3 linked regions of the Homo sapiens genome follow. The protein of the gene in region 2 purifies or fractionates together with the protein of the main gene of each other region. This does not show direct contact. Each region holds a gene or a part of one and is shown on either strand. Other genes may lie near its edges.

Evidence for each region. The genes of interacting proteins can lie anywhere in the genome.
Region 1: the proteins of AHCTF1 (region 2) and TUBGCP3 purify together in Homo sapiens (affinity purification with western blotting, with the first as the bait; one study listed by BioGRID). This does not show direct contact.
Region 3: the proteins of AHCTF1 (region 2) and NUP107 purify together in Homo sapiens (affinity purification with western blotting, with the first as the bait; one study listed by BioGRID). This does not show direct contact.

The regions. Positions count from the first base shown.
Region 1 is NC_000013.11:112,578,154-112,581,653, reverse strand, and holds part of TUBGCP3 (gamma-tubulin complex component 3), read left to right. Parts: intron 1-3,500. UniProt on the Homo sapiens protein: Component of the gamma-tubulin ring complex (gTuRC) which mediates microtubule nucleation.
Region 2 is NC_000001.11:246,844,949-246,848,448, reverse strand, and holds part of AHCTF1 (protein ELYS), read left to right. Parts: intron 1-3,500. UniProt on the Homo sapiens protein: Required for the assembly of a functional nuclear pore complex (NPC) on the surface of chromosomes as nuclei form at the end of mitosis. May initiate NPC assembly by binding to chromatin and recruiting the Nup107-160 subcomplex of the NPC.
Region 3 is NC_000012.12:68,738,978-68,742,477, reverse strand, and holds part of NUP107 (nuclear pore complex protein Nup107), read right to left. Parts: intron 666-3,500; coding exon 498-665; intron 124-497; coding exon 16-123; 3' UTR 1-15. UniProt on the Homo sapiens protein: Plays a role in the nuclear pore complex (NPC) assembly and/or maintenance. Required for the assembly of peripheral proteins into the NPC. May anchor NUP62 to the NPC. Involved in nephrogenesis.

The DNA of each region.
Region 1 (3,500 bases), on a different chromosome or scaffold from region 2:
GGCAACATGGTAAGACCCTGTCTGTACAGAAAATATAAAAATTAGCTGGATGTGGTGACACATACCTGTAGTCCCAGCTACTTGGGAGGCTGAGGTGGGGGAATCACTTGAGCCCAGGAGGCAGAGGTTGCAGGGAGCCGAGATCTTACCACTGCACTCCAGCCTGGGCGACAGAGTGAGACCTTGTCTGGGAAAAAAAAAATTCTTAAATAGTGACACAACTTTTAAAGGAAACTTTTCAATGATACTTTTAATATTTGTAAAATTAATATATACGCAGTGTAAAAATTCAGAAAGTGGAAAAATATAAGGAGAAAAAAACTACCCCGACCCTGTGACCCCACAAAACATTTTAGATTTCATTTTGTTCCTTTCCCCACTATGCAGGCATTCACTGGATCCTTGCTGACACAGTGCGCTTGTGTCTGCTTTAGCTAGAATAGGGACAGAAAGATGGGGGGGTGTGAGTCCTTAGAGGATGTGGAGAAGAGAGAGCTGGGTGCCGAGCTGGAGGTGAGCTTGGTGTGTTCCAGGAATAGCAGGAGTGCAATGTGGGGAGCAAGGGGCCGGCTCCCTGGGCTGGGGCCAGGAGGTTGGGTTCTGTTGTGAGTGTGATGGGTGTGTGAGCAGAGTGATGATAATATTTATATTTTAAGAGGATCACTTTGACTGCTGGGTGGATAATTCACTCTAAGGGGGCAAAGGTGGAAGCAAGTGAGCAGCTCCTCAGGAGACTTCCTGTAATGGGATGGTAGCTGTGGAGTGATCATATTTGGGATATGCTTTTAGAAATAGAATCAACAGGATTTGCTGATCTAAATAATTACTTAATAGTCTGAAAATGTCTTTATTTCTCTTACGCTTCTATTCCTGAACTCTTGGATCATCAGTCAGATATAGATATTCTGGTCTGAAGTGTTTTTCCTCTGCCCACTTTGAAGGTATTCTTTCATTATTGATGAGAAGTCTGATGTTAATCCATTTCTTACTCCTTTGAAGATGTGTCTGGTAGCTTTTAGAATTTTAAAAAATCCTGCATGTTCTGAAATTTTGCAATAATGTGTCTAGGTGTGGAACTTAAAAATTTACCTGGATTAACACTTGATGATCCTTCAATCTGAGGACTTTTCCTTTTTTTAAAATTTATTATTTTTTTCAAAGCTAGTGACAGACTTAGAATTTTTTTTTTGAGAAGGATCTTGCTGTATTGTCCAGGCTGGTCGCAAACTCCTGGGCTCAAGTGATCCACCTCAGCCCCTGAAAGTGTTGCAATTACAGGTGTGAGCCACCACGCAGGGCTGACTTTTTTTTAATGATAGAAAAATTTTACTATTTTTTCTTCATAATTTCTAACTGTTCTTTTGTTGTGTTTGATTTTCTAGCTTGCATTTAAATTGTCCTTTAGTATCTCCATTCTGCTATTTAGCCCATTTAAAAAAATTCTCAGTGTTTAGGTTCACAGTGATTTCCTCTGTGCTACCATTTTGCCTTTGTGCTGGCCGCCACCATCCTGTGTCTGTGTATGTCTCCGCTTCTAGAATTTCACGTAAATGCAGTCATACAGTGTTCAGTCAAAAGTTTTGAGACTTGTTTCTTTCACTTAGTATAACGCGTTTGAGATGCATTTACAGTGCCATATCAATAGTTCACCTTTTCATTGCAGAGTAGTGTTCCATTGTATGATGAACCAGTTTATCCATTTTACCACTGAGGGACATTTGGAGTGCTTCCGTTTTTGGCAGTTATGGATAATGCTGCTATGAACATTCATGGACAGGTTTTTTATGTGAACTTAAGTTAGTTTTCTAGAATAAACACCTGCAAGTGGGGTTGTTGGGCCTCAGGGCAGGTGCATGCTCATTGTTTTCAGAAGTTGCCAGACTCTTTTCCAGTATGGCTGTGGCTGCTTTGCCGCTGCACCAGCAGTGTGGGAGAGCTCCAGGGATGCCATGGCTCCACCCGCACACAGCAGTGTGGGAGAGCTCCAGGGATGCCATGGCTCCACCCCCACTCAGCAGTGTGGGAGAGCTCCAGGGATGCCATGGCTCCACCCGCACACAGCAGTGTGGGAGAGCTCCAGGGATGCCGTGGCCCCCCGGCACTCAGCAGTGTGGGAGAGCTCCAGGGATGCCGTGGCCCCCTGACACTCAGCAGTGTGCGAGAGCTCCGGGGATGCCGTGGCCCCGCGGGCACTCAGCAGTGTGGGAGAGCTGCAGGGATGCCGTGGCCCCGCTGGCACTCAGCAGTGTGCGAGAGCCCCAGGGATGCCGTGGCCCCGCGGGCATTCAGCAGTGTGGGAGAGCTCCAGGGATGCCGTGGCCCCACTGTCACTCAGCAGTGTGGGAGAGCTCCAGGGATGCCGTGGCCCCACCTGCACTCAGCAGTGTTAGTGGTTTTTAATCTTAGCTATTCTAGCAAGTGTGTTGTGATATCTCAGTGTGGTTTTAATTTTAATTTTCCTAGTGATGTTGAACATCTTTGTGTGTGTGTGTGTGTTTGCCATTCATATGTCTTCTTGGTGAATTATCTGTTCAAAACTTTTGCTTATGTCTTTGTGTTTTGCACATATTTTTTCTCAGTATTTTCATTCTCTTAACAGTGTCTTTTGCAGAGCAAAAGTTTTTAATCTTGATGAAGGCCAATGTATGAATTTCTAAAAAAATGGGTCATCATTTTGGTGTCATGTAGGAACTCTGCCAAACTCAAAGTTGCAAAGATTTCTTTGTTTTGTTTTATTTCTAAGAGGGGCTTATGTTTTACTCTTCTATTTAATTTTTGCTGGGGTGATCAGACCCAACACCAGGTCGTGGGGGTGACGAAGTCTGGTGGAGTCGAAGGAATGAGAAAAGACAGTTTGAGAGCGAAAGTGGGTCCAGGGGGCCATCGCTAAGTATGGAGGCTGTGAAGGCCCTGAGCTCTGGAAGCCCAGACTATTTATTGGTGATCAAACAAAGAAACAGGTGGTGAGAATGTGGGGGTCGAAAGGTCGCGTTGCATTAAGCACATGATTTACAGGTGTGATGATTTAGCATCTGCTCTGCTACTTGAGATAATGGAGAGCAGGTTCTTTTTTTTTTTTTTTTTTTTTTTTTTTTGAGACGGAGTCTCACTCTTTCGCCCAAGCTGGACTGCAGTGGCGCTATCCCGGCTCACTGCAAGCTCCGCCTCTTGGGTTCATGCCATTCTCCTGCCTCAGCCTCCCGAGTAGCTGGGATTACAGGCGCCCACCACCACGCCCGGCTAATTTTTTGTATTTTTAGTAGAGACGGGGTTTCACCGTGTTAGCCAGGATGGTCTCGATCTCCTGACCTCGTGATCCGCCCGCCTCGGCCTCCCAAAGTGCTGGGATTACAGGCGTGAGCCACCGCGCCCGGCCGAGAGCAGGTTCTTTTAACTCAAGATACAATCGATCCTGGGAGAGCAAGGAGCAAGGAGCCAGCAAGTCTAGACACATTCCAGAGCCACGAGTCCTGGATTCCATCCAAGCCACGAGGGGTTTT
Region 2 (3,500 bases):
CGGGTGGATCACGAGATCAGGAGATCGAGACCATCCTGGCTAACACTACTAAAAAAAATACAAAGAAATTATCCGGGCGTGGTGGCGGGCGCCTGTAGTCCCAGCTACTCGGGAGACTGAGGCAGGAGAATGGTGTGAACCTGGGAGGCAGAGCTTGCAGTGATCCAAGATTGTGCCACTGTATTCCAGCCCGGGGGGCCAAATAATAATAATAATAAATAAAGTAGATGACTTGTTGTACTGATACAGTTTGAGCCCAGGAGAATGACTCTCCCCATAACAATTGATCATTTGTCCTAAAAATGATTTGTAGCTATAGGGGATCCTCCTCTCCCCTCGTCACTCAGAAAATTTTTAATTGGATCTTCGATTTTGGTAGTATAACTTAATTTCTTCACAGTGTTAGAAAAGTGTGGTTAGACCTATGTTTTGCATGGAGGAGAATGAAATGACAGAATGTGTGATATTTTAGCCAACTTTTTTTAAGTTCATTTTATTAAGGTTTTATTAAAAAGTTAAAATGAAAAACATTTTATTGGCAGGGAGTGGCAGGAAGTCATTCACATAACTTATACACTCCTCAGGACCTGGAGGAATATAGTAACCACCAAAAGTGAGAGTTATTTTGTTAGAGCTTAGCAAACATCTCAGTAATTCTGATTTTTGTCATCTTTACCTATTTTTCATTTCTGTACCTACTAATTTTAACTTTTTTCTGTTAAACTAAAAATACCTGCAACAACATGGCCAAAAAAACCCCATCTCTACAAAAAGTACAAAAATTAGCCAGACCTGGTGGCATAGGCTTGTGGTCCCAGCTACTTGGGAGGCTGAGGCAGGAGGATCACTTGAGCCTGAGAGTTTGAGGCTGCAGTGAGCCATGATCGTGTGCCCCTGCACTCCAGCCTGGGCAACAGAGCAAGACCACGTCTCAAAACAAAAACAATACATGCCTACTTACTGAAAACTCTAAAATAGAAGTATATAATCCAGCCATCGAAAGAATCACCATTCACGTTTTCCTGTATATCGTTCCAGATACATATGTATGGTTGGTATTTAAAAACCTGCAGTTTATGTACGTGCATATATTCTGCTTTTGTCCCCCTACTTATGTCATGAGCATTTTCAGTTTTTTTTTTGTTTGTTTTTTTTTTTTGAGATGGAGTTTGGCTGTTGTTACCCAGGCTGGAGTGCAATGGTGTGATCTTGGCTCACTGCAACCTCCGCCTCCTGAGTTCAAACAATTCTCCTGCCTCAGCCTCCCCAGTAGCTGGGATTACAGGTGCTTGCCACCACGCCTGGGTCATTTTTTTGTATTTTTAGTAGAGACAGGGTTTCGCCATGTTGGCCAAGCTAGTCTCAAACGCCTGACCTCAGATAATCCACCCGCCTTGGCCTCCCAAAGTGCTGGGATTATAGGCATGAGCCACTGTGCCCAGCCTTCAGTTAATCTTAAATATTCTTCAAAATCCAACCAGCCTGGGCAACTTAGTGGGACCCCATCTCTACAAAAGAAAAATTTTTAATGATTTGGGCATGTGGTGGCTGCACCTGTAGTCCCAGCTACTTGGGAGGCTGAGGTGTGAGGATGGCTTGAGCCCGGGAGGTTGAGGTTGCAGTGAGCCATCACACCACTGTGCTCCAGCCCAGGTGACAGATTGAGATCCTGTCACCTCCCCACCCCCATCCCCCCAAAAAATATATATATGTATATGTATATATATTTCAAAATCTTAAACGTAATATTTCTTTTTTTTTCATATTGGCATTTCATCTCACAAATGTGCCACAGATTGTTTAAACCCTCTTCTGTTGGGTATTTGAATTGCTTTCAGATTTTTTAATATTAAAAATAGGCACCTGCTAGAATGAGATGATGGGATTGGAAGGGATAAGAAACTTGGGATTGAGATCTCTCATTTCTGCCACTTACTAGCTGGGCAGAAAATCATTTAACCTTTATGAGCCTTGTTTCCTCCTCCTAGAATGAATGTGGTAGTGCATACCTTACAGGGGTTCTTATGAGTATTCACTCCTTTAACAAAGCAATGACCACTCTAGGACATAGCTTCCTGTCTTCCTCTGCCCTTTATACTGTTACCATACTTTCTGTCCCTTGTGCCTATTTATATTCTAAACTTCGTTTTTACATAGGGATGCAGGTGCCGAGAAGACTGGGTATAGGTATACTATATGATTGGAAGGCTAGAGGTGGTCCTTTATTTTATTGAAACATAGCGAAGAAATTATCTTAGAATTTTGTGTTTTACTAAATGAATATGAAACTTCACATTTCATACAGCAGATATTAAGAAGGGCCTGCTATATACCTAAGGCCATACTAGATACATGACATTCATATATCGTTTGATTCCCACTTCAACCCAGTAAAGTGTAGGTACTTTTACTTCCTTCTGTCCTCATTGAGGAAACTGAAGTTCATTGAGACTGTGCACTCACATCACCCAGGGAATAAGTAAGATGTGTTGTTCTAGAGCTACTACTGCTACTACTGGCTGGTAAGAGCCAATTGTTAAATATCCAAGAACTTGTAACCCAGCCATGGTTTGCATTGGCCACAGGAGGCACATTTATACCTTAGAAATCAGCAAATGCTGCAAATCAGAGCTCTCTTTGAATTTCCAGAGTCATTTGCTAGGACACAGTTGGGTTTGAACCTAGGCCTTTTGAACTCCTTAATCCTCAAAACAAGAGATGGGTAAAGAATTGACATACACTCAAGAAAGTCTCATCTGTGCTATAATAGAAGCACATGGAAAAAATGGTGGAGGCTATTTTTGCATGTGATAGTATATTTTTGTATTTCCTTATATATTTGAAATGGAGTAGGAAAGCTTAGGTGAAGATTACGAAAAGTGAAATAAATCGTTTTTTCAGGTAGCCTAGAAGAGAGTTATAGAATGTATAATTTTCGTAGAAATACTTTTGTTCATCTGTTTCTTGAAGCCAAGAGAGAGACCACCAGTAGACCTAGCCATTGCCATTTCTGCCATTTACAAGCTGGGAGCAGAGATTATATATTTCTGATATCTGATATCAACTCTATTTTTCTTTTTTTTAAGAATCATATGCTTATATATACACCTACTGTGTACCCACAAAAAACATTTTTATATATACACCTACTGTGTACCCACAGAAAACATTTTTATATATACACCTACTGTGTACCCACAAAAAACATTTTTATATATACACCTACTGTGTACCCACAAAAAACATTTTTTTAAAGAATCATGCTCGAAAAGCAGAATTTGATAGAACTCTTGACTATCCCAGTAGCTGAAGTAACATGAACTGTGATTTTATTTCAAGGGTTTGTAAATGATATTCTTGAAATAACAAATGCAAACATCTGTAGAGCACTTACCACCTACCCTGCCACACATTGTTCTGCTTCTTTCATCCTCAGAACAACTTTGAGATAGATGCTACTATTAACCCTATTTTATAGAAACTGATGCACAGACAGGTTT
Region 3 (3,500 bases), on a different chromosome or scaffold from region 2:
ATTACAAAGATTAAACTATAACTGAATTTCATACCCTAATGGGTCAAGTCCCTGGTCTAGGAGCATTAGAGAGGACTCTCTGAGCTTCTGCAGCAACTTCCTTAGCTCTTCCTTAGAAAATACCTGATTTTTAAAAAGAGAAATAAGAATGAGAACAAAGACAAGTAGACAAGTATGAACTTAGTTACCTAATCGATCTGATTAGCTTCATATAAGAAGAAATGCCTCTTTAAGATTTATGTAGCCAGAGCCTAGTAAATTAGAGTGGTTCAGGAATTTCAAGGTGAATTCTCAGAGTCAGTCTATATATTTCTAACTGCTTACAAATATACACACATTTTGGGAAAAAAGTACAAACATTAAAACATTAAAACTGGACTATTACTTTAAGAAAATCCAAGAGCAATTACAAATGTAAACACATCTTCACAAAATTAATATTACTACAGAGCATATCAAATCATTAAAATTTAAAACTACAAGGCTCTAGAACTTACCAGGTACAGTTTGTGGCGCTCAGAGGATACCATATCTGCTAACTGTAGGCATTCCTGATACTGACCAGTACTGTGCAATATCGTATGAAGCAGAAAACACAACATTGGCAGACAAAGCTTTCTCAGTAAGACCATTTGATGTGTTCTTTCATGGTCTTCTTTGGCATCCTACAAACAGACATCAATAAATCATTTTAACAATTTAAGCTAAAGATCCTTACAAAAAGAAAAGCCAGGTACTGAATCAAACCCAGAATGTAATTGGTAGACAAGATTTAACAGCAAAAAAGTATGAAGATGAACAACGTAGACTACAGAGAGGTATGACAGTGAAAATAAAATGCTTCTGCATTTGTATTTCTAATAAACTTACTATGTCCTGAATAAAAACATGCATAAAAAGAATGAGTTGGAAACTGAATATCATTAGAGCAAAAATCAGAACAGAAAACAATCACCACTCCTTTGGATGTTTATACATATAAATAAAGATAGCTCTAAGGAGGCCTGAGAGGACACAACAGACTGACAGCAATGACTGTTGCTGGGAAAAAGACGATGTGGGGAGGGGCACACAGGGAGGGTCAACTTCATTGCAGACTACTTTGCTTATACACATGGAAAATGGAATTTATAATTTCTTTATATAATTTTTAAAAACAGAAAAACAGAACCTATAGATTTGAATAATACAATTAATGAGTCAGAACAGATATATAAGGAAAACAAGCAGAAAAAACAATTGGCATTCCTTTATACATACATGGATCTTTCTTAAAATCGATGTGAACAGTAAAAGTACAGAAAAAAGAGTAAACCTCTTATGCCCACTACATTTACTTACAAAAAATTTGAAAATTAAAATAATTAGAAAGTAACCAACCACATAATTTCTTTTTTTTTTCTTTTCTTTTTTAACCTTTTTCTTCTTTTCTGAGACAGCATCTCACTCTGTCGCCCAGTCTGGAATGCAGTGGTACAATCATGGCTCTCTGAAGCCTTGATCTCCGGGCTCAAGCAATCCTCCTACCTCAGCCTCCCAAGTAGCTAAGAACCACAGGCATGTGCCACCATGCCCGGCTAATTTTTCTATTTAAAAAAAAAAATAATTTTATTATTTGTAGAGATGAGGTCTCCCTATGTTGCCCAAGCTAGTATCGAACTCTTGGGCTCAAGTGATCCTCCTGCCTCAGCCTCCCAAAGTGCTGGGATTACAGAAATTACACACTACAATTTCTGAAATAATCTTAAAAATAGGAAGGAAATCAATAGCACTAATAGTGTAGAAAAAAAAAACAGGACAAGCTAAAATAATAACTGCTCCTTTGAAAAGCCTAATGGAATACCTAAAAGTATCTTCATGTGAGAGGCTATATTAAATTGCTAAAACATTTTTCAAATGGACATGTAAGTGGAGGGGTTAATCAACAACAAAGTATAATCTGGTAATTATACCAAGGAGTAATTGTACTAATTTGGGCTAATCTAGGTCAGGTTTCCAAACATAGGAAAAATTACTATCAATATTTTGGTCTTGTTTGAAGCATAAATACATAAAAGCAAATATTAAAGTGCTTCTTTACAAGGGAAGCACCTTTATTTCTTTTCTCAAATAGATACTTGCTACCTTCAGAGGTGGATTTAAAATGCTTCAAGGTTTTACTTGTAATTCATATTAGTGATCCCAACCTAGAACCCAGTAAGAATAAGAGAACTGCTTCTTTCTGGACCTTTCCATTTGTGCTCCAATGTAGTCTTTCTGTCTATGTTAAAGAGGCCGGGTGCCCCTGGCTTCTGACTCCTTGTTGCCCGAAAAGCAGCAGGTTACTTTCTTATCTCACAGGATGGACCCAGACTTGCTTTTACTAAATCCTTTTGCTGCCATAATATCAGAGTGTGCTGCAGACAATCTCTTCTGCTAATTATAATGAATTCCGATACTAGCGGGCGGGCTGCCAGCAACTATCCAGGGTAATGGCTGACAGACCCAGCAAATTGCTACAAGGAAAAGCAAATAAACAGCTCTGCTACAACTGAAGACATTTTTCTCATCTGAATGAACAAAAGCTTTGAAATAGCCGGTAAATATGTAAAACAGACGGATTATTTCCACTAGGGATATTTCCACTTTTTTTTTTTTTTTTGAGACGGAGTCTCGCTCTGTCGCCCAGGCTGGAGTGCAGTGGCGCGATCTCAGCTCACTGCAAGCTCCGCCTGCCGGGTTCACGCGATTCTCCTGCCTCAGCCTCCCGAGTAGCTGGGACTACAGGTGCCCGCCACCACACCCGGCTAATTTTTTGTATTTTTAGTAGAGATGGGGTTTTACTGTGTTAGCCAGGATGGTCTCGATCTCCTGACCTCGTGATCTGCCCACCTCAGCCTCCCAAAGTGCTGGGATTACAGGCGTGAGCCACCGCGCCCCCCCATGTAGTGCCTTACATGTGAGAAAAACTCATTACCTAATATGTGTTGATAGCAAGAGTTGATTGGAACTGATATTACAGCTATTCCTAATCTGAAGACAGTACATTCACCTCAGTAATGCAGTATCATTCATTTACTAAGTACCACTGAAAGCCTCCCATGTGCTCAGCATTATTTTAAGTGCCAGAGTCAAAGAAATAAAGAAAACAAGGTTACTCCCTTCATGAAGGTTATATTCTAATGAGGGTAGACATACAAAAAGCAAATAAATTAATATGTTTTATATCAGATTGTGCTAAGTGCTATGAAGAAAACTAATGTAGGATATGGAGATTAAAAGGGACAGGTGTGTGTGTGTGTATACACATGCATACATGCTATTTTAAATAGGGTGGTTGGGTTGGGGAGAGGTTCTTGAAAGAGATGACATTTGAGCAGCTGCTGAAAGAAGTACAAAGTCATCCATGCACCTATCTTGGCGAAGGAGCATTCTAGGCAGAGGGGAACCAATGAAGAGGCCCAGAATGCCAGGATATAGTGATGGGAGAGCAGTAGGACACAAGATTAGGGGGTTAGTTT